Regions from separate parts of the Homo sapiens genome. Here region 2 is linked to region 1. Evidence: fine-mapped expression QTL. Tissue or cell type: whole blood. Region 1 holds a variant in brackets; the other region holds the start of a gene. All regions are shown on one strand. Distances are between the middles of the regions.

What was found. PIP is the estimated chance that this variant, and not a neighbour inherited with it, causes the effect.
Region 2: RLN3 starts here. The variant in region 1 is fine-mapped to the expression of RLN3 in whole blood (TOPMed, PIP above 0.99).

The regions. Positions count from the first base shown.
Region 1 is chr19:13,965,218-13,967,717 of GRCh38, reverse strand. RFX1 (regulatory factor X1) reads left to right here. Exons shown (of 21, transcript NM_002918.5): 13 at 967-1,085; 14 at 1,188-1,297; 15 at 1,941-2,092; 16 at 2,172-2,269. Among named protein-coding and RNA genes, the nearest start is that of DCAF15, 14 kb to the right of the region's middle. The variant G/A (reference allele first, on the strand shown) is at 1,181.
Region 2 is chr19:14,026,772-14,029,513 of GRCh38, reverse strand. It overlaps RLN3 (relaxin 3), which reads right to left and starts at 1,366. Exons shown (of 2, transcript NM_080864.4): 1 at 1,120-1,366. The coding sequence starts at 1,309. RefSeq lists an enhancer at 540-589.

The sequences.
Region 1 (2,500 bases):
ATCGCTTGAGGTCAAGAGTTCGAGACCAGCCTAGTCAACATGGTGAATCCCCATCTCTACTAAAAATACCAAAATTAGCCGGGTGTGGTGGCGGGTGCCTGTAATCCCAGCTACTCAGGAGGCTGAGGCAGGAGAATTGCTTGAACTCAGGAGGCGGAGGTTGCAGTGAGTCAAGATCATGCCATTGCACTGCAGCCTGGGCGACACAGTGAGTGAGACTCTGTCTCAGGAAAATAAAAAAGGCCGGGTGCAGTGGCTCACGTGTGTAATCCCAGCACGTTGGGAGGCCGAGGTGGGAGGAATTGCTTGAGTCCAGGAGTTGGAGACCAGCCTGGGCAACATAGCAAGACCCCATCTCTTAAAAAAAAAAAAAGACAAAGTAAACAACAATCCATGAAAACAGGGCCAAAGGATGCTAAGTAAACAAGCAACCCTTGGAACCCACAGTCCAGCCACACATCCTTGATCCTGAGCACGTGGGAGCTCATTTCCCCACCTGCCCTGGAGGCCGGGACATCCCATTTGGAGGGTGGGGAACAATACTTCTAGCAGAGTCGAGGGGCATCCCTAGGGCGACTGTCCATGGCTAGCCCCAACCTGGGGTGCTTAGGCTCAGGGCAGTGTCCTGTGGTCCTGACTGTGCCCTGGGTGCCTACCCATTCCCCGGCCAGGTGGGTGCTGTGTTGCAGCCGGGACTCAGAGGCCCACGTCCTGAGGGTTGGTGCAGTGCTGTTACTCAGCAGACAGGCAGGGCTGGCACAAGACCCTCCTGTCCTCTCTGCCAGAGGAGTGTGGGCCCTCACTCCTGGGCCCGTCCTGGGCCCGGGCCAGGCGCTCACCCCACCTAGCGTTGTCTCACCGGCACATGGGGGACCCCAGTCTGATGGGAAACGGACAGGTCAGTAGGACCCCAGGGTGGGCAGGCAAGGGGGATGAAGGGCCTCACGGTTCCCCCCGGCCCCCTAGATGCCTCTCGGAGCCTCCCTGACTTCACAGAGCTCGACCTCCAGGGCAAGGTGCTGCCTGAGGGCGTCGGGCCCGGGGACATCAAAGCCTTCCAGGTCCTGTACCGGGAACACTGTGAGGTAGGGTGGCCAGGTGGGCAGGCAAGTGGACGGGGACGCAGCCACGGGCATGGGAGGGCCATGCTGCCCCCCAGCCTCCCTGAGCATCCGCCTCT[G/A]CCACAGGCCATTGTCGACGTCATGGTGAACCTGCAGTTCACCCTGGTGGAGACGCTGTGGAAGACCTTCTGGAGGTACAACCTCAGCCAGCCCAGTGAGGCGCCACCGCTGGCTGTGTGAGTACTGCCCGGCGACTGTGGGAGGGAGAGGGGGGAGGAGGGCATGACCCGCAGGTGATTTTGATGGCCAGGGTTGGGGCACCTGCTTGTCCCCTGCAGTTTGTGGGGTACACATATCCTTGGCTGTGTGGAGTGTGTATAGCCACCCGACACTCAACAGTCGGGGGTGGAGTGCCTGACTAAGCCCAGGCATGGGGCAGGGCACCATCTTCTCCCTGGAGTGGCAGGTTCTGGAATCTGTTTGACCCCTGTATGGAGGGTAGGGCATAGGATCCCGTCCCACCCCTCGGGCCTGTGCCAACCAGACCCTGGGGATCTTTGGGAGGCAGGGGGTACTTACCTGGGGACGGGGGTACCTGTGCCCTTCTGACGCTGGGGGCAGGGCCACAGAGTGCCCCCAGTGACCCTGGGTTGGGGACAAGGTATACCTGTGCCTTCTGGCACTGGAGGCAAGACACAGAGTGCCCCACTGACCCTGGAGTGGGGGTAAGGGGGTACCTGTGCCTTCTGATGCTGGGGGTAGAACCACAGAGTACCCCAGTGACCCTGGGTCAGGGACAGGGGCTACCTGTTCCCTTCTGACGATGGGGGCAGGACCATAGAGTACCCCAGTGACCCGGGGTGGGGTGGGTGCCCGCAGACATGACGAGGCCGAGAAGCGACTGCCCAAAGCCATCCTGGTGCTCCTCTCCAAGTTCGAGCCCGTGCTCCAATGGACCAAGCACTGTGACAACGTGCTGTACCAGGGCCTGGTGGAAATCCTCATTCCCGACGTGCTGCGGCCCATCCCCAGTGAGTGCTCGGCCTGCTCGGCATCCCCTGCCCCACATACACCCGCCCTGCCCTGACCGACCCCCGCCACCGCCCACAGGTGCCTTGACCCAAGCGATCCGGAACTTTGCCAAGAGCCTGGAGAGCTGGCTCACCCACGCCATGGTCAACATCCCCGAGGAGATGCTGCGGGTGAAGGTGAGAGTGTGAGGGGGTCCCTTTCTCCTATCTCTGGGGCTTAGGCCTCCGTCTCCTCTGCTCCCCAGGGGCGGTAAAATTTGTCCCCACGCCTGTTCCAGGGATGATGCCTGTGGAGGAAGGGGAGACCTTCTCCGCCTCGGGGAGCACCCTGGGCATTGTCTTTATAAACCAGTGTCCTCAGGCACCCACTTCTGAAATGCAACCCCCTTTGTGGTGTTACTGTACTCA
Region 2 (2,742 bases), 62 kb before region 1:
AGGTATGGTGGCACACATCTGTAATCCCAGCTACTTGGGAGGCTGGAGGCACGAGAATCGCTTGAACCCAGGTGATGGAGGTTACAGTGAGCCAAGATTGCACCACTGCACTCCAGCCTGGGCAACAGAATGAGATTCTGTCTCAAAAAAAAAAAAAATAGTAGCACATGAACACACAACTATTACATTGTAGAGCTACTATCTGAATCCAAGTGGTGTGTCTTCTATGTCCACGCTCATACCTATCCTCCTTCTCACCATCATGAATATCTATTTGCCAGGTCCCTGCCCCTCATGAAGCTAGGTCTTCTGTTCCCTCTGACTCTCCTGATGGATCCCAGATTGTGCCGCTGCCCTGCTGAGACTCTGCCCTAATCTGTTTTGATTTAATCATACCACTTAATCCTGCAAGATTCAGGAACTGTGTCTCCCATTTGAAGATAAAGACACTCAGAGACTCTAATCTCAGCACTTAGGGAGGCCGAGGTGGGAGGATCACTTGAGCCCAGGAGTTCGAGACCAGCCTAGGCAACATAGTGAGACCCCTGTTTCTACAAAAAAAAAATTTAAAACTAGCCAGGCATGGTGTCAGGTGCCTGTGGTCTCAACTACTCTGGAGGCGGAGGCAGGAGAATCACTTGAGCCTGGGAGGTCGAGGCTGCAATGAGCAGTGATTGGGCCACTGCATTCAAGCCTGGGCAATGGAGTGAGACCACATCTCCAAAAAAAAGACACTCAGAGACGGAAGAAAAACCAACTTGCTGGGGAGAGGTCATGCATTAGGTGACAAACCCAGCTATGTGTATACCACACCCTTCACATTACCTGCTGGAAAGGGTTGGAAAACACTTCGGTGTTGTCTTTGCAAATGGCACGCTCCCCGCCCCCACCTGTCCTCAGACTTCCAGCCCCCATGGATGGCTTGCAACACCCCATCCCAGCTCTGCAGCTCTGCTAACTCCTGAGCCCTTGTTTCAAGGCTGGGCAGGTGTCCCTGGCTGAATGTGGCAGGACAGGGACCCTCCTCCTCCAGCAACCTCCTCTTATCTCTGTCCTTAGCTCCTGGGACCCATCCAGCCACCTGTTCCCCTTCTACATCCACTCTCTCCCCAGCCTCACCCATAGCCTCGTGGGCCAGGATGTCTGATCGTCTCCACCGGGAGCCCCCGCAGGTGAAGATGACTGCTCGGATGAATTCTCGGCCGCAAAGCCTGACCCCGTAAGGCGCTGCCCGGGCCTCAGCTCCCGGCCACAGCTCCCCGGTCAGCACCCATACCGCCAGGAGCAGCAGCAGCATGTACCTGGCCATGCTGGACGGAGATGCTTTGAACGTGAGAGTGGGCCAGTGTCTCTGCTGCCTCTTGGCCCCCCATTTATACATCGTGGCTCCCCCACACTCTGCCTGAAGAAAGCTGAGTGCCTCCCTTATCTTCTCCAGCAGAGGGGAGACAGGCACGGCCCCCCCAACCCGACCTTTCTCATGTCCCCAGCGAAGTGATAACCTTTCGCTAGGGACAGGGTGATGTGGCCCAGCTTATTGTCAACATCATTGACAGAGAGGCGAGAAGGTCTCCAACCTGCAGAGACCAGAAACGCATAATCCCAAAAGGCGGGGTAAGGTGACACAACCAGATCCCCACAACGTTAGGGTCCTGGACCTCTTCGAAGATCATAATAGCAGTGAACGCCCAGTGCAGTATGTGCTACGAGGCCAGGCACACTACTGTAAGCATTTTATTGTTTATTTGTTTGTTTGTTTGTTTAGATGGAGTCTCGCTCTGTCACCCAGGCTAGAGGTACAGTCCCAATGGCACAATCTTGGCTCACTGCAACCTCCGCCTCCCAGATTCAAGAAATTCTCCCGCCTCAGCCTCCCAAGTAGTTGGGATTACAGGCGCCCACCACCACACCTGGCTAATTTTTGTATTTTCAGTAGAGACGGGGTTTTACCACGTTGGCCAGGCTGGTCTCGAACTCCTGGCCTCAGGTGATCCGCCTGTCTCAGCCTCCCAAAGTGCTGGGATTACAGATATGAGCCACAGCCCTCAGCTGCTCAAAGCATTTTATATCTCTGTAATGTATTTGATTCTCCCAACAACCCAGGGTAATGGTTCTCAAATGTGAGTGAGCTTCAGAATCTTTGGGTAGGCTTGTTAAAACAGAAATCAGGCCAGGCGCGGTGGCTCACGCCTGTAATCCCAGCACTTTGGGAGGCCATGGCAGGAGGATTACCTGAGGTCCGGAGTTCGAGACCAGCCTGGCCAACATGGTGAAACCCCGCCTCTACTAAAAATACAAAAAATTAGCCGGGTGTGGTGGCTCATGTCTGTAGCCCCAGCTCCTTGGGAGGCTGAGGCAGGAGAATTGCTTGAACCTGGGAGGTGGAGGTTGCAGTGAGCTGAGATGGCGCCACTGCACTTCAGCCTGGGCAACAGAGTGAGACTCTGTCTCAAAAACAAACAAACAAAACACATATCTTTGTGTCCTACCTGCAGAGCTCCTGACTCAACAGGTATGGAACATATCTAAGAATCTGCATTTCCAACCAGTTCCCAGGTGACATTGATCCTGCTGGTTCAGAAACCAGACTTTTTTTTTTTTCTTTTTTTCAGAGACAGGGTCTGGCTATGTTGCCCAGGCTGGATTGTAGTGGTGGCAACATAGCTCACTGCAGCCTTGAATTCCCGGGTTCAAATGATCCTCCCACCTCAGCCTCCTAAGTAGCTGGGACTACAGGTGTGT